4 linked regions of the Homo sapiens genome follow. The protein of the gene in region 3 interacts with the protein of the main gene of each other region in a biochemical or structural test. Each region holds a gene or a part of one and is shown on either strand. Other genes may lie near its edges.

Evidence for each region.
Region 1: the proteins of HDAC9 (region 3) and PKD1 form a complex in vitro, tested with the Homo sapiens proteins (2 studies listed by BioGRID, with this or other methods).
Region 2: the proteins of HDAC9 (region 3) and MAPK10 form a complex in vitro, tested with the Homo sapiens proteins (one study listed by BioGRID).
Region 4: the proteins of HDAC9 (region 3) and MAPK9 form a complex in vitro, tested with the Homo sapiens proteins (one study listed by BioGRID).

The regions. Positions count from the first base shown.
Region 1 is NC_000016.10:2,111,899-2,119,059, forward strand, and holds part of PKD1 (polycystin-1 isoform 1 precursor), read right to left. Parts: intron 6,948-7,161; coding exon 6,778-6,947; intron 6,565-6,777; coding exon 5,893-6,564; intron 5,775-5,892; coding exon 5,591-5,774; intron 5,156-5,590; coding exon 4,935-5,155; intron 4,747-4,934; coding exon 4,631-4,746; intron 4,221-4,630; coding exon 4,094-4,220; intron 3,728-4,093; coding exon 3,480-3,727; intron 3,253-3,479; coding exon of another isoform or gene 3,137-3,252; intron 3,028-3,136; coding exon 2,272-3,027; intron 1,395-2,271; coding exon 1,263-1,394; exon of another isoform or gene 1,259-1,262; intron 1,168-1,258; coding exon of another isoform or gene 1,143-1,167; intron 1,066-1,142; coding exon 890-1,065; intron 576-889; coding exon 442-575; intron 1-441. UniProt on the Homo sapiens protein: Component of a heteromeric calcium-permeable ion channel formed by PKD1 and PKD2 that is activated by interaction between PKD1 and a Wnt family member, such as WNT3A and WNT9B. Both PKD1 and PKD2 are required for channel activity.
Region 2 is NC_000004.12:86,356,916-86,364,246, reverse strand, and holds the start of MAPK10 (mitogen-activated protein kinase 10), read left to right. Parts: upstream 1-4,193; 5' UTR 4,194-4,589; intron 4,590-7,331. UniProt on the Homo sapiens protein: Serine/threonine-protein kinase involved in various processes such as neuronal proliferation, differentiation, migration and programmed cell death.
Region 3 is NC_000007.14:18,645,683-18,652,912, forward strand, and holds part of HDAC9 (histone deacetylase 9), read left to right. Parts: intron 1-2,102; coding exon 2,103-2,316; intron 2,317-2,783; coding exon 2,784-3,001; intron 3,002-7,230. UniProt on the Homo sapiens protein: Responsible for the deacetylation of lysine residues on the N-terminal part of the core histones (H2A, H2B, H3 and H4).
Region 4 is NC_000005.10:180,247,051-180,254,280, reverse strand, and holds part of MAPK9 (mitogen-activated protein kinase 9), read left to right. Parts: intron 1-5,142; coding exon 5,143-5,308; intron 5,309-6,354; coding exon of another isoform or gene 6,355-6,426; intron 6,427-6,552; coding exon of another isoform or gene 6,553-6,581; exon of another isoform or gene 6,582-6,618; intron 6,619-6,770; coding exon 6,771-6,842; coding exon of another isoform or gene 6,843-6,883; exon of another isoform or gene 6,884-7,230. UniProt on the Homo sapiens protein: Serine/threonine-protein kinase involved in various processes such as cell proliferation, differentiation, migration, transformation and programmed cell death.

The sequences.
Region 1 (7,161 bases), on a different chromosome or scaffold from region 3:
CCGCGGCACCCCCACCTGCTCCCCACCCGCTCGGCAGAAGCCCCCCGCCTGAGGAGCCCGGGGTGAACGGCTGCACCTGCGGCCCAGCCTTAAGGGTCCCAGGCTCCCAAGCCACGTGCGGGACGGAGCACAGGTGTAGCAGCACTGAGGGCTGCCTGGCGAGGACGGCACCGCCTCCAAGTGCAGCTGCACTCGGGGCAGCAGAGCAGCAAGAGCCAGGCCCGGGGAGGGCGGGGGGCGCAGTTCAGGGGCCCAGCTTCCCTGTCCACTCCCCCCACGCCTGGCCCCTCCCTCACCCCAGTAGGGGCCTAAGCCATCAGCCCAGGTGAGGTCACAGTGAGGGCTGTTGGGGAGGAAGGGGGGCAGCTTGACTGGGGAGCTGGGGGGACCCCGTGCTCAGAGCCTGAAAGGCAGTGGCCCCCTCACCCCCTCATCCCTCACCTGGGGCAGCGTAGGTGTGCATGACATTGTGCTCCACCAGCACCTGGGCCACCGAGGGGTCTGGAACCGGGAAGGACTCGTTGTACGGAGGCTGGAACTGGTGGAGGGCCTGCTCCCCATCCCCAAAGGTCCACCTGCCGGGGCGGTGGGACGCAGTGAGTGAACCGGGACAGGGGTGGGCGGTGGCGGGGCAGGGGGTGCTTGGGACCCAGCCGAGGCTCCACTCTGCAGTCACGCCCCGGGCCTCCATTCAGGGCCCACCCGGCTGTGCTGAGGCCTCTCCCGGCTCCCGTGCAGCCTCAGGGCTCCTGTGCACCCAGTTACCTCCCAACAGACAGGGAAACCGAGGCTCAGAAAAGCAACCCCGTGATGTGGGGGTCCCTCGGCTGAGGCTGGGGCTGGGACAAGAGCCTGGTGCCCACCCCAAACCGGCCCCCGAGTCACTCACAGGAAGGCCACCTCCACGGCCGAGTCCACCAGCACGCCCGCCGTCAGTGCTAGCGTGGCATTGGGGGACAGCACGGCCGGCACTGTGGAGACCTGCAGACCCTGCATCCTGTTCATCCGCTCCACGGTTACGTTGTAGTTCACGGTGACGTTGCTCACGTGGTTGGAGGCCGTCAGCTGCAGGGACAGGCGTCAGTGAGCCCAGGTGGCAGGTGAGAGGCCTGGCCCTGATTGGCGTCCCTCCCTCCACTCACCCACAGCCATGGCAGCGTCCTCGGGCAGCATGAAGCAGAGCAGAAGGCAGAGGTGAAGGTGGAGCCCGCCCCCGCCCTGCCCCGCCCCATCCCCTCCCCTCCCCACCCCCGCCCACCTACTGAGAGCTTGAAGACCGCCGCGCTCTGATAAATGACATTGAAGACCACGTTCTGGAAGGTCAGGGACTGCTTGTCGTTGATGGTCCACCGGAAGACCATGTCCGAGCCGGCCTCCACCACGGGGCTGTACCTCTGCGGGGGGAATGGTGTCAGCCTGGGCTCTGTGGAGGACTCTGCCCTTAGCCTGTCGCCTCCTGGACACACCTCCCGTCGGGCTGGAGAGTCCCACGCGGGGCACAGAGGAGAGGAGGTGCCCGGGGCTCTGCATGCCATGGGAGCCAAGCCCGGGCTGGGACACTCACTGTCCGGCTCTCCAGCCAGCCATGTAGTACTACTAATGCCTCAACCTCTCTGTGCCTCAGTTTCCCCATCTGTAAAGCAAACCTAGTACCAGCTACAAAGAGTCCACCTCTCTCTGAGTCTTCTCAGACCCTCCCGGCGCTCTTGCCCCAGCTCCTCACCCAGAGAGCTCGGAGCAGTGAGGGGAGGCACCTACACTGGCTTACAGAACCCAGGACAGGCTGCACAGGTCACGCCATTTCTGATGGCCCCTCCCAAGGCCCCTGGTGAAGAGGCAGGTACCCGCAAGATGGAGACAGCCCTGTCCCCCATGTACCCAGCATGGTGGCACCGCGGGCAGCCCGCAGTTTCCCATCAGGGGTTCAGACTCCACCTCAAAAGCCACTCGCTTTAGCCAGGCGAGAACACAGCAGAGGGCGTGAGAGACTCACGGGGGCTCGTGTGAGGTCAGGGAGCAGAGTTTTAAATTCATTTTGTGAAATGAGACAGTGGAATGAGTTAGCGGAGCCACTGTCAGAGCCGTGACTTTCCAGGAATTTAAAGCCCACCAGGTAGCCCGAGGAGCCAGCCAGCAGGACCTGCCCGGGGCCGACGTCCCCAGTAACTGGGCTGCTGCCCTCACTGGGAAGCCAGGCCTCACGCCCTGTGTGAGCACCCTGTCTGCAGGCACCTGCCTGGGGGCTGGTGGTGGAGCCTCGGCCATACTCACCACTAGGACTCCCTGCAGTACACGGGCCTCGGGGCTGGGCGTGGCGCGGAGGCCACAGATGGGCTCCTCCGCCGTCACCCGCAGGCTGAGGTTGGCCCGGCTGGCGCTGTTTTCCACCACCACGTCCACCACGTGCTCCCCCTCACTGAGCCACGGCAGTGCTACCACTGAGAACAGGGTATCGTTGGTCTCCCAGGGGCAGCCGGGCACGAAGGTGGCCACCAGGGCAGGGCAGACATTCTCAAAGCGGGCGCTGACACTGCCCCCAGGCCAGCGAGCCGTGGCCGTGGCGTTGGCACCAGAGTCCACCTGGAGCACCAAGGCTGAGCCGTTGGTGGGCACGTAGAGGCGGCCGTCGCGGGGGGCAGGGTAGATGACCCGCAGCCCAGCCACTGGGGAGACCACGTCAAAGCTGCAGGAGAGGTTGTGCCTGGACACGCCATTGCCCACCTCTGCCCGGACCTCATAGCGCCCAGGCAGCCGCAGTCCAGGGTTGGGCCTCAAGCCCAGCAGCACGGTGAGCTGTTCCGTGGCTGCAAGCAGCCGCAGGGCACAGGCAGGGCAGGCCCAAGTGCCCTCCAGCTGGGCTGGCAAGTGGGGCAGCCATGACGAGGCGTTGGCGGAGAGGTACGGGGCCCGGGGACCAGGGTGGCCGGGAGCCGGCGAGCAGTGCAGGAGGGCGCCAGGGCCAGCGTCGTGCTGCAAGCCAACGAGGTCACCAGGGAGCATGAGGACATCCTGGCCGTGGAGGGTGACCTGTGGAGAGGGAGGCAGGGCTGCATCACGTCCTCACGGTCATGGCCCGTGGACCCCCGCACGACGGATGAGGGTGGACACGCAGGGCTCCCCGCTTCGTCAGCCACACCTCAAGGAGCCTCCCCACAGTGCTCGTGACAAGGACAGGCAGGACAGTTGCAGACCGGGGGACACACGGGGAGAGGACACAGGCCAAGACCTGGCAGACAGGAAGGAGCAGCTGTGCTGGGAGAGAGGAAGAGGAGGCACAGCTCGTGCCAAGGGCCCAGGCGAGAGCTTCTCCCACTGGGAGAGGGCCGAGGGCACTGCAGAGGTCGGAGGTCAGAGGTGGCAAGGACGTGGGAGGGGCCTGCAGGCTGGGTGTGTCTGGTGCACAGACCCAGACCCTGGGCAGCAGACAGGAAGGTGGCCTGAGGAGATGCAGGGAACAGACCCAGGTCAGGGCCACACACCGAGTACTGCGCGGGGGGCCCCGCGGGAACGGAGAAGAGGAACTCTCTCCATAGCGCATAGGGGGCCCCGGGTAGCCCTGGCCCTGACGTGCAGCCATTGGCGCAGGCCTGGGGGTGGCAGGAGGCGTCCAGCGGCAAGCAGATGTTGGCTCCAGGGCACCAGCGTCCCCCTGGCATGCACGCGGGGGCCAGCTGGGTCCTGTTGTCCGGGGACCTGCTCTCAGGCTCGCTGCCGTTCTCCGGGGTCCCTGTGAGGAGGGGAGGGTGTTGGGGCCCTGATTTGCCCACAGGCCACCGTCAGAGATGCCCAACTGCCTGCACCAGCAATCCTGGCCTTGCTGTGAGGACAGGTCTCCCCACCTGGGCAGCACTCCCAGCCCAGTGCTGCGTCCGTCTCCGGCCAGCCGACTGACCCAGGCCGGCCCCCAGGCAGGCCCCACCCAATCCACCCCCAGGACACCTGGAATGAGCTGGTGTCTCTGGAACCCCTGCTCTGTCCACCTAAGACTGGGAACCACTCTGGTGGCCACAGGACCAGCAGACGTGAAAGCTCAGAGAGGCCACCCCGAGTCCTGCGGCGCCCACCACCCACCACCCACCACCCAGAGTCCCACCTGCTGTGCTGAGGAGCCGGTACACCTGCAGCCGCAGCTGGGCGGGCCGCCGGAGCTCCTGGGTCCCAAATTCGGCCGTGGTGAGGAAGGCTTCACGGCTCAGACGCAGGCCCGGGAATACCATGACCTGGTGGGCAGGGGGCCGCCTCAGCTCCACAGACCCCATCCCAGCCTGAAGCCCAGACTCCCCCTACCCGAACTTCCCAGGAAGAGGGGAGGGAAGGAGAGCGAGCCATCAGACCCCCACAGGCCTGGCTCCTGTCGCTCGAGAGGAAGACTCCGGTGGAAACTGTCCATGGGGGGCAGGACCCCTGACCTGCCTTTCAGGAATAACTCACACACGCTCAGAGAAAAGGCCTGGAGGTAATGTGAGTAAACGCTTTCCTCTCTGCACTCTGGATTTTCCCAACCATCTTCACTGGGCACAAGCAACATTAAGGCCCCCAAGTTTTTTGGCGAGACCCACAGTGGGCAGGGCAGGCAAGGCCTCCAGGGGCAGGCAGGAGGGCAGGTTGTAGAACGTGGGGGGCCGACTACCTCCACGGGCTCGTGCGGGGCTGAGAGGCCGTCCTGCTGTGCCAGAGGCGTCAGGGGTCCCTGCAGGTCCCCACTGGGCGCTCCCACGAGGAGGTTCTCGGCATCCTGCACTGGGCCTGGGGTGGCGAGTGCACAGTGAGGCGCCGGGCCAGGGCCCAGGACACCAGGACGAACAGACTGGGGACCGAGCCGCCCGAAAACCCCCCCACCAGCCCCTCCTCCTCAGCCCAGGCTCCACCGCGGGCGCTCGGCAGGCCCCTAACCACAGCCAGCGTCTCAGGCCCCTGCCTGGCCCCCCGCACACCTCCGGGCTGCAGCTCGCAGACGTAGCTGTGCGGCGCTGAGCACAGGTCGGTGTTACACCACCCGGTGGGCCCGAGCCGGACGCAGTGCTCGGCTGTGGCTGGGTGTGGCTCCCCGGGCAGCCAGTTCTGGCAGCTCTCCAGGCTGAAGGCCTCGCCCTGCGGCGCTGGGCCCACCTCCACCCCCTGCACAGTCGAGAAGCCGATCCACACGTCTAGGCTCCTGGGGGCGGGTGTGGGATGGCAGGGGGCTCAGGGCACTCCTCCATCCTCCCACCCTCACAGCAGCCCGCTGGGAGCCCCATCACTGTCCCCCTTTCCAGATGGGGAAACTGAGGCTCAGAGCCCGGAGACCAGGGCCCACCAGCCCAGGCTCACAGCAGCACCCACCCACGGGGCCTGTGGGTACCGGCAGGGATCCCCGTGCAGGCCACCTCCCGTATGGCGTGCCCAGGAGTGTCCGGAGGCTGCCCCCAGCTCATGTCCACCTCTGCATCTGCAGAGCTGACAGGAACGGCCCCACCGGCCGGCGCCACCTGCTCACCAGGGCCGGCCCAGCTCCCACCTCCTTCCTCCTGAGACTCCCCAGCCGCAGGCTCTGCCCCAGTGCTTCAGAGATCTCCCAACCTATGGCCCCTCGGGGGGTGGGGGCAGGCACCTGGTGACCCGGGAGACCAGGAAGCGCTGCACGGCGGGACTGTCCACCATTGCCAGGGCGGCCCCGGCCCAGGCCTGACACTGCTCCTGCGCCTGCAGCCAGGCCGCCTTCTCCACCACCAGGCGGTAGCAGTGCCCGTTGCCAGGGAAGATCTCCGTGTCCGAGGGGCAGAGCGGGTGCACCGCTGGAGACCGGTGGGAACGAGGGTGTCAACGGTCAGTGTGGGCCCAAGACGGGGGTACCAGGCTCTGCCCCATCTGGATGGCCCTGGGGAGGAAGGGGAGTGGGCAGCAGACACTCACCTCGGGCCGGCTCCTCGCCCAGGGCCACGATGCTGTAGGCGGCCTCCAGGCCTGAACCACCGCGGTTCTGGATGCTGAGGTCGAGGCTCTCGTCACTCTGCACCGAGGACGGGCACACGAGCTCCAGGGCGGCAGGTGCCGCTTCCACCTGCACGTCTGTCCCCAGCAGGGCTGAGCCGGCCCCCAGGGCCAGCACGGCCGTCACGTGATAGCGCCCAGGCAGCACATAGCGATGCGAGGCAGCCGGCCCAGCGGCATCCACCTCGGCGGAGCCGTCTCCGAAGTCCCAGCGTGTGGCAGTGACAGGGAGCGGGGCAGCGATGTGGAAGGCTGCTAGCTGGCCAGAGGCCAGAGGTCCGTGGGGCCCCACCAGGGTGGCCCCTGGGGAGGCAGGGAAGACGTGCTGGAGGAGGGTGGGGCCCCTACAGGTGGGGGCAGGAGGTGGCGGGGGGCCGGAGCAGAGGGACAGGCAGGCAAAGGAGGCACTGGAGGGCTGGGCCGCCCCACACAGGCACCAGCCCTGCTCCGAGAGGGCTGCGAGGCCCTGGCCGGTGGAGAAGCAGAAGGCGCTGCAGGCCTCTGGCTGAAGCAGGCCTTCGTGGGCAGCTGAAAAGGACACTGCTGCCACGGTGCCTGAGCTGTTGTCAGGGAGGCAGGCGACATACTCCTCACCTAGAAGAGGCAGCCACTGGACCCCGGGTTCTGCTCCTCCTGGCTCCACCCCACGCCCCCACATCCGCCCGCCGCACTCACAGGCTCCCATGCTGTTCCCTTGGCCCGGAGGCCCCCCCCAGAGAGGCCTTCCTGAGCCCTGCCCAGTGTCTGCAGGGCCCAGGTCCCACCTGGCTGGGAAGGACAGAGCTGGCCCCACCCACCGGCACTCACCACAGCCACTGTCCAGCAAGGGGATGCCAAGCAGAGGCTGGCCAGCCAGGGAGCCAGGCCCAGCACACGTGGCTGCCTCGGGCTGCACCACCCGCACCTGCTGCTCCTCCGCCCATCGCGGCAGCCACGCCAGGCCACAGTCACACTCAAACGGGTTCCCACTCAGGTTTCTGCAGGGCAGGGGCAGGTGTTGGGGACCAGGTCTGGTGGGAAGGGTCTATGCCAGCCCCCCACTGGCAACCAGGCCCTGGAGCCACCCTGACAGCACCGCCTCCCCTGCCCCAACCAAGCCGGCACTGGGGGGCTCCAAGCAGGCAGTGAACTGCCCCCAGGATCTGGTCTCAAGCCTGGAAGGGGACACGGACCAACTGGGAGGGCAGAAGG
Region 2 (7,331 bases), on a different chromosome or scaffold from region 3:
GCTAAGGTAGGAGAATCTCTTGAGCCTGGGAGGTTGAGGCTACAGTGAGCTGAGATTGCACCACTGCACTCCAGCCTGGGTGGTAGAGTGAGACCCTGTCTCAAAAACAAAACAAAACAAATCAACAACAACAACAACAACAACAACAATAAAGAGTTTCAAGCCTGGTGTGGTGGCTCATACCTGTCTGTAATCCCAGAACTTTGGGAGGCCAAGGCAAGAGGATCACATGAGTTCAGGAATTCGAGATCAGCCTATGCAACAGACTTAGACCTCATCTCTGCTAAAAATAAAAAATTAGCCAGGTGGAGTGGCAGGCACCTGTAGTCTCAGCTACTCAGGAGGCTGAGCTGGGAGGACCCCTTGAGGCCAGGAGGTCAAAGGTGCAGTGAGCTGTGATTGCACCACTGCACTCCCACCTGGGCAACAGAGTGAGACCCTGTCTCAAAAAAAAAGAGTTTTATTTAACCAAAATTTTAGTTAACTAAAATTTTAGTAAAACAAGAGGAATAAATTTTCAGATCTGTTGTACAGCAGAGTGACTATAGTCAACAATAATGTACTGTATATCTTAGAACAACTAAGAGAGTAAATTTCAAATGTCTCACTACAAAAATGATGTGAGGTCTCAGTTATGTTAATTTGATTTAATTACTCCACATTGTATACATATATCAAAATATCACAATATTCTCCATAAATATGTACAATTATAACTGCCAATAAAAATAACATTAATAAAAATAAATTTTCAAAAAGCTTAAAAAGGAAACTAACACCTAACGGATGAAAATGATTGGTATTAACCTGTTTCTGGTTGCCATTCTTTTTAATTGCTGAGTAATATTCTATTAGGCAAATGCAGTTGTCCCTCAGTACTCTCAGGGGGATTGGTTCCAGGAACAACCTCTCCATACCAAAAGCAGTGGATGCTCAAGTCCCTTATATAAAATGGCATAGTGTTCCATCCTCCTATTATTTTAAATCATCTATAAATTATTTATAATAACTAGTACAAAGTAAATGCTATGTAAGCAGTTGTTATAGTGTACTTCTATTTGTATTTATTTATCTCTGTGTGTTATCTTTTATTCTTTTTCCCCTAATATTTTTGATCTTCAGTTTTTGAATCTACAGATGTGGAACCCATGAACATGGAGGGCTGACTGTATATCATAATTATCTGCTGTCTAGTTGATATATTTGGAGTTGTTCCTGCTTTTGCTTATTATAAGCAAAGCTAGCATAAACATTTATGTCCAACTTTTTTTTGGTAGACGTAGGTTTCCATTGTCTTGGGTGAATCCTTATAAATAGGAGTGTTGAGCCATACTTTGGGTGTAGGTTTATAATTATAAAAACTACCAAAATTTCCCAAGGTAGTTTTAACATTTTGTACTCCTACCAATATATGTAGGAGAGTTCTGGTTTTCCATGTCCTTGTCAATATGTGATGATGTTAGTCTTTTTAATTTTAGTCACTTTTGTGGGCATGAAATGGTATCTCACTTTGGTTTTAATTTGTATATTTCTGCTGACTAATGATATATAATACTTTTTCATATGCTTATTGGCCATTTATAAATTTTCCTTTGTCAAATGCCTGTCAGAGTCTTTTGCCCATTAAACAAAATTGTTTGTTCATGTTTATTATTGAATTGTAGGACATGTTTTCTATAATCTAGGATTTGTGTGTATCAGAATATTTTCAGCTATCAAGAGTATTCAGATATATGTATCATCTAGACTCTGGCTTGCCTATTCATTTTCTTAATGGTGACTTAGGATAAGTGGAAGCTTTTAATTTTGATGAAGTCTCTTTTTTTTTTTTATGGTAAGTGCTTTCTGTATCCTAAGAAATCTTTGCCTACTGCAAGGTCAGAAAGCCATCTTTAAAAAAAGTTATATTATATTTTAATAGTGTTATATATTTTAGCTTTTATGTTGAGGTGTACAATTCATCTTGAATAAATATTTGTGTTCACAATGTAAGGTAAGAGATGGCGTTCCTTTTTTCCTCATTCATGTTACGTTACTGGACATTCACTTTTAAAAAATTGTTTTATTTTATTTGTAATTGACAATAATTGTATATATTTATGGGGTATAATGTGATGTTTTGATACATGTATACATTGTAGAATGATCAAATCAGGCTCATTATCTGTCACCTCAAATATTTATCATTTCTTTGTAGTAAGAACTTTTGAAATCCTCTCTTTTAGCTATTTTGAAATAGGCAACATTATTATTAACTATAGTCACTGTGCTGTGCAATAGTACACCAGAGCTTATTTCTCCTTTCTAACTGAAACTTTGTACCTATTAACCAATGTCCCCCCTTTCCCTGTCCACCTTTCCGTCCTCCAGCCACTGGTAACCACCATTCTACTTTCTAGTTTTACAAGTTTGTCCTTTTTAAAATTTCACATATAAGTGAGATTATATGGTATTTGTCTCACTGTGCCTGGCTTATTTCACTTAGCATAATGTCCTCTAGGTTCATCTATGTTGTTGCAAATGACAGAATTTCCTGTTCTTATAAGTCTGAATAGTATTCCAGCATGTGTGTGTGTGTGTGTATGTGTGTTTGTGTGTGGTATGCATAATATATATACATTCATCTGTTGATGGACACTTAAGTTGTTTCCATGGCTATTAGAATAGTGCTGCAATAAATATGGGAATGCAGACATCTCTTCGACAAACTGATTTAATTTCCATGGGATTGGGGAACTGACTTTTGATGTCCAAACTTAGTATATAATACCTCAAAAGCCAGAATGCCAATTATTTTGTGTTATAAAGTTGTTTGGCTATCAATCCATATTTTTGCATGAGGTAGTTATCTTGCAGGTAGGCCCATTGAGAAGACTAGAAGATAGTCTTGATTGATTCTTGTTGAAATTGAAATTAGAGTAAAGGGACATCCAAACACTTATCCAATGAACTACAATGACATACAACTCACTCAAGCCTTCCTTTTTCTAAATTTTCTCCCCAAATAAAACAACAGCAGCAACAACAAAGACAACAAAAACGTATGCGTTTCTTACAGCTTTATGATGTGTTTCAGTGTCTACAGTACTGCTGAGTTTGCATCTCTTGCATGTTGTATCTTTCTGGTAACATATGGAAGAAGCTTCATATTCATATAAGTATGCTAGTTCTAAAACATAATGTGGAATCATTTACAACTCAGCACTACTTGGTAGCAATAAACAGAAACCCACCTCAAAAGAGTGTAAGCAAAAAAGGAATTGAATTAGATTACGTAATTTGAGAAGTCCAAAGGCTGGAGTTGGTTTAAGCGAAATTTGTATTGAAAATTTTTCTTACATAAAAAAGGTAAAACAAATTTGGTAAACCTAATTTTTTTTTATAGTGCAAGTAGTCAACTGTTGTCATTCTAAGAAACTATTATTTATGGATAGTAAAACTGTTTGGAGACTTTAAAAATACCCTATAACAGTTAAAGGCAGAGCAAATTACTGAAATAAAATTGCGATATTTGCCCCAAATAGTAACAGTACAATTTTCATCAGTTCTCTAGAAAATTATCTGCAATTAAAAAAAAAAGAATTCTGATGTGTTAACTCAAATTAATCAGTATTTTCTTTGTACACTCAGATTGCAACCTAAGTATTAGTCTGTTGAATTTGGTTTAGTGGATATTTATTCAGGATTTTTACAAAAACAAGGAAACAGAGAAGAGGAATAGTGCTGTGCAGATGACCTCGGGGTTCAGGCGACACTCAAATGCCTGCTTCTCCTCTGAGGTTATTACCATCTCTTACTTGTTTGACGTTTAGAGATACTACAAGAGATAGTTGAAAAGCAGAGGTTGCATTTCCAGTGGTGTTTTGCTCTGCTGGTATTTGCTCCTCCGTGCTGCTGTGCAAAGGGCCAGAACTGCATCGAATGGATCTTTTCTTCAGGTTGTGCAGGCTGGCTGCCTTGATGTCGTAGTTGCTGATGTTGGCTGCCGACGAACCTTATTCCTTTACATTTGCCTGGTCCTCATTTCACCGGAAAACACAGTAGCTGTAGCTGCACATAGACGCTTCCTCTTTCTGTTTCCCCCTCATCCCCCTCCCTAGACCTCTCTGGGCTTTGACGTCATGTGTGCTCCTTTCGGTTGCCATAGCAACCCCATTCCCCAAGCCCTCTGTCCGTCTCCTCTGGTAGGTTCCACAATGGTACAGGCAGCATCACGCTGCACAATGGTTTCCAGGCAGTGAAAGAGGGTGATTCAGCAAGCCACTCTTCTTCTATTTTCTTTAACCTCCCCTTCACTTTTTATTTTTATGGGGGTGGGTGGTGCTTGCTATATGCTTACCTTTTTCTTTTCTTTTTTCATTTTTACAAATTTCCTTTTTTGTCCTCACCCCTCAATTCCTAGGGGCTTGAGTGAGTTTAAGATTGGGTTTTCTTGGAAATCACCTGTCCATCGTTAATTTTAAACAATCTCCATATCTCCAAAGAATCTCTTCCATGTTAGTCTGGAATGTGGTTAATGAAAAACAAGTAGGGAGGATTTCTGGGGCAAACACTGCCGGATCAGGATCGTAGTTCTCAGGCACGGAATGGTAGGTGGCTCTTTGCTCGTTCTGGGTTCTAACCTGTTTTTGGAGGGTGGGGTGATGTCTATTGATTGCTCCTGGTGGGGCGGGAGAGGGAGTATGGAAGAGACGAGAGAGGTGGGGTGGAAAGCAGGTTAATCAAGTGAACTAGCTTTGAAGCAAGAAGCTACCAGTTTTTCCCTCTGTGCAGAACATCTCTTTCCAGACTTGGGCGTGTTGAAACCTTTCCATTTGGAGTGAGGGGTAGCAGAGGGAGGGAGGGAGCATTCTTATTGTGACCAGGGGTTTTTAGACCAATGCAGGGCTACAGAAGGGAAGGGAGAGAGAGAGAAACACACACACACACACACACACACACACACACACACACACACAGAGAGAGAGAGAGAGAGAGAGAGAGGAAAAAAAAAACACCAAACAGCTGTGCTTGTTAGAAGTGCTGACCTTAGTTCCATATCTGAAAAATGTGATGGGTTCCATAAAACATTAAAAATAATGTCTTTTAGTATGTATTTATGTTTACTTTTGTGAGAAGTATAATTTAAATATTTTAAGATGTATTTTACTAAGGAACAGTATTTATATATATATTAGATATAAAACTATTGGCGTTACTCTTGCAGAGCAACTCTAGGCTAAATCTGAGCCGGGGAGAGGAACACAGAACAGGGGTCAGGTTAGAGATAAGAGGAAACATTGGCACTGCAGTCAAATAGGTAAGGGGTCCCTTTAAGAAAGTGATCTCCTAGTCACAGCAGTCAGCTTTCTTTTTTTCATGGCAAGATTCCCAGGTATTCTGTGCTGGGATACTGTGTCCCCTGCAAATGTCAGAGCTCTTTTGAAAAAAAAATCAGAAATAAGTATGGCAGTATATTTGTTAGAATCTATGTATTTGTGCCTTCAACAAAATAAATGTAATTTACTGGAAAATCTGTAAGTAAATCAGGCTATAGATATTACAAGAAAACTATCTATCCATATATTTTTCTCACCCTCCCCAAACATTTAAATCTAGAGACCTAGTCTCTGCTTTTACCCCCTTAAACAGATAACTTCCCAGGGTACTGCAATTTAGCCACAGAAAAAGAATGGCTTATGCCACAGCAGTAGGCTCTGAAGCAATCACAAGGTTGTTTACATGGGCTGCCTTTGGTGCAGAGCCTGACAGTGTCTGTACAGCAGCCCTGCCTGCTTCTGGCCATGTTGATGATAACTTTTATGAACAAACTGCAAGGAAGCAGGCTAAGTCATATGGGATAGACTACAGTTCAGGTGGAAGGAAAACGAGTGTAAGTGCACCAGGCATTGCCAGCACAACATCCAATATCTCCTTCTATCCCTCATCGGCTAGTTGTCGGACCCTGGAAGATAACACAGAATGCTTATCAACATATTTAAAATAGTTGCAGTAAGGACCATTTCTCTCAGAGAAGCTTCTGTGAATTTTCTACTTTAGGTGAGCATATATGTTACAAATATATAACAAATAAATATATAAGTATATCACAAGCTTCTGACTCCACTTCAGAACCATTAGATTTTAGGGGCTGGATGCTTTGGATGTAGCGGTTTGGCTGCCTCTGGTATGTATTTCCTTCTCTACCTTGATCACACTCTTAAAATTGACATAAAGTATTGGATTAGCTTATTTTCTTATGTGGAGCAAACTGGGTTTTCTCTCCCCTACAATGGGACTAGAAAATCAGATGACAAAGGTGGTGTGACCTTAAATATTAGAGAGTCTTCATGCTTCCTCATTTGCCTGTCATTCCTCTGCTGTTGCAAAGTGTCTTTAATTTGAGGGGCTCCTGTTCTTAAAAAATCCTCACAGTTTCAGTAAAACGATTCTGGATAGTGAGGCAGTAAGAAATTATATGTAGAGTGGGAAAATCAGCTGCCTCCAGCTTCCTGCCTGCTAGCCCCAGAACAGCATCTGCTGTTGAGAGGAGTGTGTTTGCCATGCTGGAAGGGGATGTTTATGAACAGATCCCAGAGGGGCTGAGTGTGTTTTTGCTGTCATTGTCTGGTATGTCTGCAGCTATTAGTATTTAATGGTTTCATAGTACATGGTCTATATATTCTAAGGTTAGAATGAACTGATAATTTATTGTCAATGCTATAAAATGTAGATATTTTAAATTTATAGGAAAATTAATAAGATTTTCCTTGTTAGGATATCCTACAGGAACATCATAAGCAAAACAAATTTGCCCAACCTAAGTAATCTAGAAAAACCTCCCATGTTTAAAGGCATAAATATATTTTTAAGGTTTTATTGTGGTTTCATGTAAATGAATCTGTTTCTTTGGATGTAAGCCTAGTTATAAATTCTTTTTATACTGATACTAAAAGCTAAAGACAAATTGGGTATTTACTTGTTTGTTAAATATGGGGATAGATGTTCTCCCTTCATGCTCTAGTTCTGGCCTCAGGTCACATTTGTAGCCAAAGGACTTTCAGTGGAATTGGTGTGTTCAAATCGAATGATTGCTTGGTTGCTTATCAGAATAAAGGACTCAAAGCAAGAGAGACTTCCTTCAATTAGAATGAGAAGCAAACACATTGTTGTCTTAAATTCTTTCTTCATTGCCCTTTCTATTTCCTCTTACAGTCTCTTTTAAGCTTTTGGTTGGACATTGCAACAATCATGCAGAAAGAGGCACGGAAGTGTCCAGTAGTGACAAGAATGGAGTACAATGCTCTATTTGCTGCAGGACTGCTGAGTGCCTTCCTCCTACCACACATGCA
Region 3 (7,230 bases):
TGAAATGTTAGTTAATTAAATTGTATATATACAGGGGTCATATGATACATTAGGTTTAGAGAGAAATTTATTCCAACTCTCATCACCAGTTTGGCCAATCTTTACCTTCAAGTCTTCCACTGAGTTGAATGTGTCAAGTTCACTTGTATGTTCAACACATAGTTTCAATGCGTATTTTAAAATCAACCTAAGAGATATTATATCTGGTATTGTCAATAGACTATAATGTCATTTTATGTGGTACTGTGTTCTTATACCAATGAGGAAAAAACAAAATTTGGATGTTGTCTTATATCTGGGGATTATAAAAGAAAGCATTGAAAATACAGAATTCAGCTATGCTCTTAAAATTCCACATGAAACATTTGTAAATGAAAAACAAAAAAAGGAATTAGGAATGAAACTAAAAATAAATATTCATGGATAATATTTTACAGTTATCACTAATTAAAAAATATTTTTCCTTCTCTATTTCCTGTCTCTTCTAATGATAAGTAAATACCAACCCAAAAACTTCTTATGACACATGAATAGGCATTTTATTTTTACTTATTTTTGTATGTTCTAAGCCACTCCTCTCAATAACTCACACATGGACCACTTTTAATGTGGTCAGGGAAAATTTTTTCCCAAAGGACCAAGTACTAAAGCCAGACCAGTTAATGTTTCAGAGGTAATACGATTTGGTACCATTGGATGAATAAACCAATGTGGTTTGGATTAAAGTTTCATTTTTCTTTGCTTCCATTTTGGTGTGGATGAGGCCATCACAATTAATTTTTCAAGTTTAGCATTGCTTTGCCAACGGGATTTGTAGTACTCCATTTCTACATTGAATACTGGGAAATTTTAAGGAAAAGAGGCCAGGACAAGGAATCACTTCTAGATTAAACATTGCATTGACTTACTGTGTGACTCAGACAAACCACTTACCTCTTTGTCCTTCAGTTTCTCCATTGCTGAAAATTGCTTCGCCTCCCTGGTGCACAGCAATTTTGAAAGATGAAACATGAGTTTTGAAAAGAAACATGCCACATAATTTTGAGGTATTAGAGTCCTGCTTTTGTAATAGCAAAATGACCACCATTCATTAAATCCTTTGAATAGGATAATTCATTATTGCTATTGATGATATAATTATTATTGCCTTATTACTGTGTTATCATACATTTCAAGTTCTTAATAGCATTTTTTGTAGTTTATTATACAAAATATCTAGAGTGTCATTTTCAATATTTAGAGATTTGGGTATCTGTTATGAATTAATATAAAATGTTTAAATCAAATTTCTGCATATTTTTACCTCCTTTCATTGGGTTATTTTAAGAATTTAATTTAAAAAATTAAACATTGGACACTTACAGCTCTGTGAAATTATTAGAAGCCATGTAGAGAAAGGGTAAATTGTTCCTTTTGCTTGCAACTCCAAAATTACAGTCCATCTTATCTCCAGCTTCTTAATCCCCATGATATAGTCTTTGAATAAATTTTACCTCTCCAGTATGCCTTTAACTTAAACAGTGTATAAAATATTTTAGAAATGTACTTTCCACTTATTAAGCCTGAAATAAGCATTTTTTGTTTTTTTATTGACATATAAAAGGTACATATATTTGTGGTTTACAACATAATGATTTGACATATGTATACATCGTAGAGTGACTTAAGCTAATTAACATATGCATTGTCTCACATACTTATTTTTTATGGTGAGAACACTGAAAATCTATTCTCTGAGAAATTTTCACATGTACAATATATTGTTATTAACTGTAGTCATCATCATGTACAACAGATCTCTTGAATTTATTCTTTCCACCTAAAATTGTGTATGTAGCATCACTTCTGATTTTAATTATAAAACCTTTTTATGTTCAATACAATGACAATATTAAATTGTCTTCAGTGCTCCAACCCTATTTTTATTCCTTCTTTTTTGAACTGAGTTAGTTTAAAAAGTCCATTTTCCCTGCTCAGCCATTGGGTAAGATGGGGCTTTTGTTTTGGGAAGCTACAGCATAGGAAACTTGTCTAATGATTTAGAGACCCAGTGACCCACATGGATGAAAGAGGATTAACATCTTTGTTATTTCTCAACACAGGCTTCGAATTCACTCAAAGAAAAGCAGAAGTGTGAGACGCAGACGCTTAGGCAAGGTGTTCCTCTGCCTGGGCAGTATGGAGGCAGCATCCCGGCATCTTCCAGCCACCCTCATGTTACTTTAGAGGGAAAGCCACCCAACAGCAGCCACCAGGCTCTCCTGCAGCATTTATTATTGAAAGAACAAATGCGACAGCAAAAGCTTCTTGTAGCTGGTAATTCATTATGGCACCATTTGCAGGTCATTTTAGGGTTTTATTTTATTAGTGATCCAGGATAATGTCTCTTTTACTCAAGACCCTGATGGAGATCCACAGTGCTATACAAAAGTTTCCCTGATACCTGGTACTGTGGGAAAGGCTATCATCTTTATTTATTCCTTCAGATCCACTTGGGGTAGGAGGACTCACCTCATTTAACCTTTATTCATACCAGACTAGGCTGTGGTGAGTCGTATGGTCAGATGCGTACCTGTCCAATGCCTTGACATTTCTCTCTTCCCACACCTGACCTATTCTTCTGTTGTTTGCCTGGTAGCATCACTAATTCACTAATTTTCTTACAGTTTATACCATGTATCTGTTTTCTTTGGCTTCTTATCTTTTCTTAAAATTGTGTGTGTGTGTATGTGTGTGTGTGTGTGTGTGTGTATACACACATATACATGTATTTTTTTTTTCAGGTGGAGTTCCCTTACATCCTCAGTCTCCCTTGGCAACAAAAGAGAGAATTTCACCTGGCATTAGAGGTACCCACAAATTGCCCCGTCACAGACCCCTGAACCGAACCCAGTCTGCACCTTTGCCTCAGAGCACGTTGGCTCAGCTGGTCATTCAACAGCAACACCAGCAATTCTTGGAGAAGCAGAAGCAATACCAGCAGCAGATCCACATGAACAAAGTAAGCCTCCAAGCCAAGTCAAAATGTTCTAACCGCCAGTTTGGAAATTGGGTATCTCTTCACTGATATGGGTGTCTAAGAGGAATGTTGATGGGAGTCACAGCAAAAAGGATGTGATCATCCTAAGCCTGCTTTCTTGGCTCAAGGACACCATCACAATATCAGTGTTTTAACCACCATTATGTTCATAAGACATTTGTAGCAAAATTGAGATGATACATTCACAAGATCTTTTTATGATCAGGTATATATTTTGGTACACAAGCCCATACGGGCATATGTATATGGAGCCTCATTTTTTAGTGTTGCAGAAAAAGTTTGAGGCAGACTTGAATGTGGTGTGTTGACATGTCAAAAAGTTTGTACAGGTGATGACAGATAGGCCAAGATTAGCCAGTAAGGCACTTCTCAGCAACTTGTATGCATCTACGTTACATTTATTTTGCGAATGCCCCACTTCATTCCAATAAGCGTTTGGAGTAGTTTCTCGGAAACTTGTGATCATTTCTTCCTGGAAGTCTTAATGTTGCTAAAATAGACAGCGGATGTCTGTACCGTACCACATCCTTAGGAGCTCTCCTGCTGAGGCAACTACAAAGAAACAGTGATTGCAGCATAATATCAGACAGGCCAGTAAAGGATTTTCTATGAATTCGTAAGCAAAATGATATTAAAGAACCTGGTCTGGACAGTTTTTCCACTACTTTTTGCTGTGGTAGGCTTAAAAAAGCACCATCTTCTCATTCCTGGAAAATTCCTGGAAAATATTAAGGTCCTGAGTATTAAAATTCTATTCCCTTGCCTTTGTGCTGTATCATCTACAAGTTATGTTACAGAGGCATGAGAGGCATGATATTGCAAACTGATACTTTGTTTACTGATAAATGGATAGCTAAAACCTGGCTTAGTAATAACTTTGTTGTACTATGATGTAAGAAACAAACAAAACAAAACAAAATAAACTCTCATGGGCAGAGGCTTAATCATCTTTCTAACGGCAGTAGGGGAAAGGGATCTTCATCACTTGCTGGTTTTATGGCAAGTGTTGCTGGAGTTTTTCTCTTCTTTTGGCCTCCATCGTAACAAGGGCAGAGCCATGAAGGAAGCATGGATTGGATACCATGCTTCCGAACAGAAAGTTTTCCAGCCTAGCCCTTCGCTACTCTCAAAGTAGCAAAAGTATGTGTGGGATTGGGGTGCTAGAGATGGGGTGGCTGGCAGGGACAACTCTCTCTCTAACCTTTTAGTATGCATTGCAGACCCTTTCTGTGTCATTAGATAATGCCTATTTTATTGCTGTAGCACTTCTCTAAATTTAGCAAATATTTCGGTTTCATATCAAATTATTTTATATCAAATCAGTATCTTCAGGAGAGAGCCAATTTCCTTCTCTGACTAATGGCATAATACTCACTGACTTGTATGTGACTCTGCATATGTTTTCTATATTATGGTAGAGTTAGGTTTGTTTATTTGTTTTGTGGCCTTTCAGCACAACTTAAAATTATTAGGTATTCTTGAAAAATTGTCCACTGTTTAGTGCAAGAAATGTATGTGGGAGGGAAGATTAGGGATCGTATTTTTTTGCCATATAGTGTTTTGATCTAGAATTAGGTTTGTTTATAAAACCAGTATTAGATAGTAGATAGACTTTTCTGCTATGCTTGGTTCTATTTCCTAGAAACACATGGATGTATATATTTTACTATGGTAAAGTAGGTAAATTACTCACTTTGAAATTGTGATCCACAAATGGTTTCTATGAATACCTTTAAGAATATTTTGGAATACAGTTTTTTATTAACTAATTGCCACTGTTTCAGATTCAGATGGTGTGCTAATATCAGAATCTTTCCTTTTCAGTATCAAACTCGAGATTTTGACAGGCGAATGCTAACCTCAGTCACACTGGATAAAACTCAGATGAAAAGCAGGCATTTGCATTTTAGCAATGAGAAAAGCAAATCTTATCAGAGACCTTTTCCCATGTGGAGCTGATTCCTTTGAATCTGTTAAGAATTCTTCCCAGAATTAGAAACAAACCTATACTTTTAGGTACATGTTTGTACAGTGGTTTGATTATTAAATCTTGTCTTAATTAGGCAAAATGAAGACCAGAAAACTTCAAAGTCCAAAGCTGATCTTTATATGTTAACCTCTCTCAGCTTGGGTGTTTAGATGACTCAAGCAGGTCGCCAGTTGGCTTTTCTCCAAGGATGTATTCCATATGTTTCATCAAGTTGGCATATTCACGTTGGGTATTCTCCAGATTTTGAAAATATTTTACCTGCCCTCAGTTGTCTAAGGGGACAGAGAGGAAGCTTATTAAAGAAAATATCAAACCCATGTCCTATCCTGAAATATTCACAATAGAACGCTTAAGAAGTGAGTGGCTACTGTTCACCTGCTTCCGTGACGTGACAAGGATGTTTATTTCACATTGGGTCAGATTCATAACTTAGATGCCCAAAGCTAACATGTTTCTGTATAATATATTGCTGTATACTTGATTTAACCATTTAGAATGCCCATTAGTAAGAAATCACCACAGAAATTTTATCATTTTTCCCCATTTCCATGGATGAACCTTTATGAAACCCATTCATACTGAAGCGATGGTCCTTACTCTTGAGATACTTATAGCAGGAAATACAGGCACACATGAAGATGTTGACATACAAATGACATATTTAAATATATCTTCTTTTATTTCCTTTTTATGATTCTTTTTTGAGGAATTTAGAGAAACAAAAAATGAAGTGGGAACAAGAAAATATAAGTAGGATTATTTCTAAACCTGTATCAGATTAAATATGATGGGCTTCCTGGTATAAAATTTGTAGTAATGTGTTTGAATTACTAATAATCTTTAGAAGAATTAGAAACAAAGCTATATAGTTTTAGGGGCATGGGTGATGCAAGGATTGACTTATTAAATTTGAAAGAGTTTTTCATATCTTGCTATTATTTTAATGTGTTTATAAAATATTCATGTTCAGTGTAACTACATAATGTAACTGTTATTAATCATACAAAATAATTTACCTACTTGTTGCCTTATACTTTAATATCATATTTGGGATATTTGTGGGATAGTTGTGTGTTCTAAGATTATTTGCCTCTTACAGTTACGGTGTAAGTGTTCAAGGGCTTAGCAGAAATATCCCTGGAATGGGCTTGTATAGTATTTATACTGTTATATCTGCCAGTAAATAATGGGGAAAGTCAGAAAGGAGAGTGCTGGGCTGGAGAGGAAACCCTGTGAGAATGATTTATCTCTGCTCATGAGTTTGAATATTCTATTTTTCACTGAAACTGTTTTGAGAAGTTTAATCATAAAGAAATCAAGGCTTACAACATTTGATCTTTTGTTTTCTGAGACATTTTACAAATCAGAAATGCATTAAACAGGTTCTATTGCTAATATATGGTATTAATATTTTTGTGCAATGATGTCATTGCACATTCATTTATATCATTTTTCCCCAATACCATGGAAGAACCTTTTCAAAAAATCAAGAGTTTCTTTATACCAGCATCAAGGGAAGACTGATGCTTTTGCCAGTACACCTTGCTTTTCTGATTGGAGGAAAAAAGAGTTTCTAAAGTAGAACTTCCCTCAAATACAAAATATCAAACAAAAAGTAATAAGGTATTGGTAATTTTCTCCTGGGCCCATTTCAAGTTTAAATATTACCACAGGATTTTTTTTCTGGTGAAATAAAACTGTAATTGATTAAAACAGAATACGTAACAGTTGTTTAGACATACTGATGATTTTAAAGAAGTATTCTAAGCACTGCCTAAAAAATAAAAGGGCAAATCTCTAGTCACTTCACTATTTGAATGATATATAGAAAATTTTCAAAATCTCTTTAGGCATTTTTGTTGTGAGGTAATTTGACATAGATCTCTGCCATGCCCCATCCCCTTGACAACATTATTCTTTATTTCTCTGTTATAGTATTAATAGAATTGCACTGATTCATGCCTAGCAGTTTCTATTTTAACTAGAATATTAATATCTTTATTAATATCTGTTTTTCATATTCATTCCATTAAATCCATAAGAGCAGGAATTTTAAGAAAATTCATACTTTGTTTAGTAGTTACTTTAATGAATTATTAATCTATGTATGGATGCGTTAAACAAATCATTAAATACTGTGTGCAGACACAGTTTTAAGCACTAAGAAAACAACCTTCAGTGTCCTCATGGAGCTTATAGG
Region 4 (7,230 bases), on a different chromosome or scaffold from region 3:
AGATTGAAACATTAGGCCAAGCACGGTGGCTCATGCCAGTAATCCCAGCACTTTGGGAGACTGAGGCGGGCAGATCACCTGAGGTCAAGAGTTCGACACCAGCCTGGTCAACATGGTGAAACTCTGTCTCTACTAAAAATATAAAAATTAGCTGGGCGTGGTGGCAGGTGCCTATAATCCCAGCTAGTCAGGAGACTGAGGCAGGAGAATTTCTTGAACCCAGGAAGCGGAGGTTGCAGTGAGCTGAGATAGTGCCATTGCACTCCAGCCTGAGCAACAAGATCGAGACTTCGTCTCAAAAAAAAAAAAAAAAAAAAGAGATTGAAGCATTAAAGGCTGACTGGAAGTACTGAGTGAATGGGTAAATTGTTAAAGAATGGGTGTCTCTTGGACCACAGGCAGCCACAGGTGTCACCTTCTGTAGGTTTTTTCTCTGGGCACCATTTAATTTCTCTGGAAAAGGCCCCTTCAGTCCCTTGGTGGAGGGATGTAAGCCTGGCTGCTGGGGTACAGGGCTGTGCTTCTCATGTGGCAGAGCGCAAACTCACCAGGCAGCCCTGTTGCAGGCAGGCCTCACCGTGCCTTCCCTGTTGGTACCCACAGGACTGTGCATGCGGCGCCTGTGGCCCTGCACCTGGAAGCTGGGCATCAGTTTCTCTGCGTGAAGGGCCAGCAGGAGTGAGGAAGGAGTGGAGCCTCACTTCTGGGATGGAGATGGGGATCTGGGACATCTACTACGTACTTGGACTTTCAATAAAATGAAAACTTCTCCAAGTGCTACCCTTGCCTCTTCTGCCTCCATAGCACCTGCATTTCACTTGCTGAGCCTTTCCTGGGTGTCGTGGCCATTTATAGAGGTTGGCATTTCCTTCGCTCAGCTAGGGCATTTGGGCGGCCCTGCAGCTTCCTGTCCCTGTAGCGTGGGGCTTTTCGTGGGCGGCTTCCGCATGCCACGGTGGGTTAGACAGGCGAGGGACTGGCCGGGAGGAGGCCTGTGCGAGAAGGAAGGGGGAGCAGCCAGAGGAGGCAGCAAATGCTAGCTGAACGTAGTGCAGTCCTGGCCCCTCAGAGGCCTGGTCCAGACTGCGGTGCAGCTCTGAGGGCCTCCGGTGTCACACAGGAACGGGCCTGCCTCAGCATCCCTGCCCGGTCGGCCCCTGGCTGACGGCTCTGTGGGAGGTGTGCCCTGGCAGGGACAGAGGGTAGGTGCAGACACCACACTGGGCCATCTGTCACTCTCACTCCTGTGGCGGGAGACCAAGGAGTGCATTTCCGTGGACCCCACAGTCCACCCTGGCCCCCTCAGCTCTACTTCTCCACATAAGTTGGGAATGGCTTTCCTGTGGCGCCCATGGTTCTCTCTTCCTCAGGGGAAATCTGGAAGACAGAGGTTAGTGGGACACCCTGTAGTCCCTGTCACTGTGGTCTCTCTGCTGGCTCTTTCCCTACCCTTTCCTGTTATTCATACCCTCAGCTCTCACATTGGCAGGCCTCTGTGGCTTGCCTGGCCTGTGTCCCAGGCCTTCATTCCTGAGCCGTCTGTGTCTGGTGGCTCTCAGTGGGCCACAGGGTCCCAGGCCACCCAGTGGCCGTCTCCCCAGTCCTCAGTGTGTAGCCGGAGCGGAGGCGCTTGGCAGGTGGAGTAACGCCCACACGAGTTCCTTGGCCTGTGAGTAAGAGTCGTCACAGTGGGAAGGCCAAATGGAAACCTGAAACTGCCCCCAAGATAGTAAATCAAAAACAAGATCACACCCTGCAGGGCCCGGGGTGGGTGGAGGAGACTAGGGCCACCATGGAAGCCTCAGGGGAGCAGAGACAGTGGTATCTTGCATCCCAGTCTAACTCGTTAGTCCAGCCCTTGAAGAAGCTGCATGGATTCTGGAGAATGACCCCAGACGGCCACAGGCTTACGGCACTGGCAGTCCTGGCCGCAGCTGCTGTGCATGTCAAGGTGCAGTTGTTGCTGGAGCAGATTAATAAGGCCTCAGGTCTGGCATGTTGATGGGGCAAATGCATCCTCCACACTGATTAGAAGAGAGGCCCAGACAGCGCCCACACTGCTGCAGGCTGGACAGCAATGTTCTCTCACAGCCTTGCTCTAAGCCTTTGCTAACGTTCCCACCCTCCCATAACATGGCCGCAAGAGACCTGGCCCAGACTTCACTTATGCCCTGACCCCTGACCCCTGACCCCACGAACCCTGCAAGTGGAGGAGCCCTGAGAGTGTTTGGGGTCTTCGGGTTTCAGTGTCTACTTAGAGCTGTGTCCATTCATCCTCAAGAGTGCCTGGCTGTTCTTACCCGGTGGGTGGCCACAGGTACCTGTGGGGAAGGACCGGCAAGGCCAGACAGTGGACACCTGTCATGATGTGCTCCTTCCTGGGATACCTCTCAAGCAGTGGGTCTGGATCCCAGAGTTGAGCGGGCAGTGGGGGAGGTCAGCACCTGCCCCACTCATGCTGCGGGTGCTGTGGGTACCCTCACTGCTGCCCACAGGGTAGCGTTGGGTTCCAGGCATTTTGGGAGCCAAGCCCCGATCCAGGCGTCACTTGGATCTGTACTTGGCATTTGTCTTCTTTGTTCTGAGTGATTTTCAAGACTTGAAGGGGCAGAACTGTCTTTCCTCTGCTGTCTTGAAATTGAAGTGAGGTGTTGGGAAGCTGCCTCAGGTTGTATTTCGGGGGTGACTAGAGAGGGTCCCAGGGTGCGGGGAGAGCACCTCCTTAGCCACCTCCCCATTGGCCACACAGAGCACCCACACAAGCTTGGGACTTTATCACCACAGTCTTCCAGCAGACGGCAGTAAAGTGTGCTTTTCCTGTTAAATTAGTATGTGATGACAGTTTTTTGACAGATGGCAGTGTCTTCAGATGAGCGTGTTTCTGGCGCACTGGGGTTCACAGAGCTGGCAGGCAGCCCGTGGAGATGGTTCCACTGCTGCGTCTGTCCTTGGTAGAACCAGGCTGTCCTTGTCTTCCTTGCTCCTGCGGCCGTGCTGTTAGTTCTGGGTGGGCTGGGCTTCAGGGCCTGCTGGCTGGGGAAGTGTGTGCATTTCACACCTCAGAAATCAGCCTCCTGGAGAGAAAGTGCCCACTGCACACCCTCTGTGGCCTGAGGAAGCGCCTGTTTCTGCTTCTCCCGCCAGCACCGAGTCTGCTTGCTTTCCATCGCTGCCAAGTGATAGACTAAAAATGGGCATTCATTTTGGGTTTTTAAAGAAGATTTTTGTGAGATTGAGCATTATTTTATCTGTTAGTAATTTATGTTCTAAAATGCCTGTTCTTGTCATACTCTTTGATTTTAAAAAAGGAAACAAGAAGCGAATTCGTTCATTTGGTCTTAGCTCCCTGACTTGGTCCTCACAGCGGAGCGTCCCTGGTTGAATGTGGGCTGCTTCTCCCTGGCTTTCCTTCATGCAGGGAGGCAGCCCGGTTTCTTCCTCTCAGGCCTTTCTGGGAACCGGGGGTGTCTGCACAGTACTCTAAGGTGGAATGGAGGGGCTGGGGGCCTCTTTTTGGGGCCAGGTAGAGATTGTGACTGCATTTTTAAACATTATATGTTTATCATTTAAATCTTACAGAATCTAGGAAGCCTAGAAACAGGTCACTTAGCAGCATGGCAGTGTAATTGTACCTGTTGTCAATGTCGAAATGGCTTCCTGCTTGCCCTGATGACAGCCCCACAGCCTTCACTGAGGCATGCCGCCTGCAACCCCCCTTGTGGCCCATCAGTTGGGGTGTCTTACAGGCAGGTGCTAGGCAGTGCTACTGAACCTGCAACTTCCTGGGTAAAGTATCCTCATGCCTTACGCCATGTCAGTGGCTTGGCAGTTTGACATTGCAGGTGCACTACTCTTGTGAAAAGAATGGGTGTGGGTTGTTTACAAGTCACAGTTTCTCAAGTGAGTTTGCAGGCCGAAGTCCCCAGGCAAAAGTCAAATTCCTAAGGCCTGAGGAAGGGGCTAGGGTGGAGGATCAGCAGGAAGAAAATCCCTTAGTTATGAGGGAAAAGGTTGCAGAAGTTGTGTTAAGGCTTTGCAAGTCAGGTGGAATATGATGCATGTCTTCATTCTGCAGACACTTCCCAAGTGTCTGCTCGCGCCAGGCGTGCTTCTGAGTGCTGAGAGCTCACACAGAGTCAGCACTGGGGAGGGAAGAGAGGTGGCAACCAGAACATGAGCAGGTGAGTTTTTGTGCCACGTACAGATGGAGACAGCAGCACCAGTGCTGGCGTGTCTTTGTGGCGAAGGTGAGAAGATTGGAGGTGGATGATCATGGAATTGCTCTTCCAAGGAGAGAAAGAGCCATGGGAAGATTCCAGGATCAGACGATTCTAGACCTGTGCTGTCCAGTATGGCAGCCACTAACCACAGGAGGCTGTGGAGCACTCAGGATGTGGCCGTGCTGCAGTTGTAAAATACATACTGGACTTCAAAGGCTCAGTACTAAAAAGAGAATGTAAAATATCTCAGTATTTTTCTTATGTTGATTACATTTTGAAATGATAATATTATGGATATATTGGGTTAAAAAAATATACTGTATGATTAAAATTAATTTCACCTATTTCTGCATGCTGTTGAGCATGGCTAGTAGAAAATGTAAATTATACACATCGTTCGCATTATATGACATTGTCTGTGGGACAGCACTGCCCTGGACTGACAGACAGCATGAGGACCTTAGCAAGAGAGAGTCAGAGTATTGGGGAACTCAAGTCCAGGCGTGGAGAGCAGGAGGGGGCCGTGTGTGCTGGACTGACAGCATGAGGACCTTAGCAAGAGAGAGTCAGAGTATTGGGGAACTCAAGTCCAGGCGTGGAGAGCGGGAGGGGGGCATGTGTGCTGGACGTGTAGATGCATGGATGGAGGGTAGATAGGACAGCCTGAGGGCCTGCGAGACCACAGAAAGGGCAAATGGGGGCCATGAAGGTTTCCACTGGGGGTAAGGGGCACCATCTGACGGCTTTAGGCTGATTTGTTTTAGTTTCAATTTGAGAGTAAGATTTTCCAAAGTTGTTCCCAAATCTCAGAGTTCAGTTCACTCCCTACACTCTCACACTGGCTTCACGACCCTCACGGATGTGAAGTAGTTTATTTAGCATGCTTCATTCATTTTACTAATTTAAGCCATTTCTTTCCTAGGATTTGAAGCCTAGCAACATTGTTGTGAAATCAGACTGCACCCTGAAGATCCTTGACTTTGGCCTGGCCCGGACAGCGTGCACTAACTTCATGATGACCCCTTACGTGGTGACACGGTACTACCGGGCGCCCGAAGTCATCCTGGGTATGGGCTACAAAGAGAACGGTGAGTATAGCCGGGGCTGGAAGAGGCTGGGATGTTTAGAAATTGCTCTAGCGGTGGTCTCGAGTTTTTTCTCTTTCCTTTGAACCATATGATATATACTGTGGGGACTGTTACACCCAGAATATAGCATGATCCAGAGATAAGAAATAATTAATTGTGTTTTTCCATTGGTTAAAATCATTCTCTTTTAAAAATTCACTTTTAAAATTGTTATTTTTGAACTTTTTAATCAGAGTTAAGCTGTCTATAGCCAAGTGTGCAAATCCTGAGTGTGCAGCTCAGCTGAGGTGAGCACACCCACAGCAGCAGCAGCTCTGGCCTCCCCATGGCCCCTCCTCGCAGCCCACGAGGCTGGCCAATCTCCTGATCTCCAGTACCATGGATCAGCTTTATTTGTTGGTCTGCATATTGTTTTTTTGAATTTGATGTAAATAGAATAACACATGTTTTCATGTAAAATTGGTGTCTTTTTACATCAAAACTTAGCTTATTCTAGCAATATCAGAGCTCTTTGAAACTTGGCTTTTAGCAAATTTGTTGAAAATAACGAAATCACGCTTACTTATTTTTAAAAAGACTGAAAGTTTGCCCGGGTCATCTGAAATGAGTTTTGCTACAGGTTCATCTTGCTGCGTTGTAGCTTGTGTTCCCACCCTGAGGGGCACAGCTTCATGTGCTTCCTGTGGAGGGGAGAGAAAACTTGATCCCCTGTTCACTTCTCCCCTCGGCCCGCCAGCAGGGCACTTAGAGGCCTCTGCTGTCTGTCTGAGGCCCCACAGATGAGGGTGGGCACCGTGGAAGTCTGGGCCCCTCTAGCAGGGCCTCACCTGCAGTCCTGCAAGCCAGCCAGCCTGTGCCGCCAGTGAGTGCTGCTGCCTTTCTGACGGGGCAGTCTAGAAAATGATCGCTCAGGAGGTGTGGTATCAACAACGCACAGAGGCTCCCGCCGGCAAGCTAGTGACGTGTACCGGGTTTGTCCTGGGAGGGGGTTTGAAGAAAAAAGATGGGGGACTCTAGCTGGTTTTTAATCCCCTGGTGTTTGGTAGTGGACATCTGGTCTGTCGGGTGCATCATGGCAGAAATGGTCCTCCATAAAGTCCTGTTCCCGGGAAGAGACTGTATCCTTCACAGGGGACCCGGTACTTGGCCATGGAGGCTGGGGTGGGCGTGTGGCCCTGAAAAGCTTTGTGTTCACAGGCACTTCTTGTTTCTGGTTTTTTGTTTGTTTGTTTGTTTGTTTTAAGCTATAAAGTATTGGACTCTTTGGCACTAAAACCCCAGATTGCTACAAACCGAAGGCTAAAATAGAGGTCAGCAATCATTCATATTGTGTAAAATGTCACCCTTAGCTAGCAATTTATTTTTCCATATTTGTGTGTTTAGTGCACTGTTAGAATTCCTTTTCCTCACTTTTGTTTTGTTCATGGCACTTCATAATTTTATCATTTCATTTTATTTTCAGTTGATATCTGGTCAGTGGGTTGCATCATGGGAGAGCTGGTGAAAGGTTGTGTGATATTCCAAGGCACTGACCGTATCCTTCCCCGCGACCTTGGCCCCGCCATGCTTTCTTAATGCCTCAGGCAGCATGACCACCTGCTTACACGAGCGCTCACGAGGACAAAGTCGTAAAATCCACTCCAGACTGTGTTCTAAGGGGGGCTTTACTGTATTTGTTAATTAGTGTCACAAGCCAAGTGGTTCAATTTCATTCTTTATTTTTAACTTGACTACCTGTGATGACTTTGAGACTTAGAGTTCAGTTAAACCGATTATATTAGCTCTTAATTTTGCCAAAAATAGCTGGACACATAGAAGAAATTATTTACTCTTTGATAAGTATATTCTGATATTTAAATGAAAATACTGTATTATTTAGTTTATTCCGTTAATTTAACTAGGAAAGATGCTATCTAAATTTA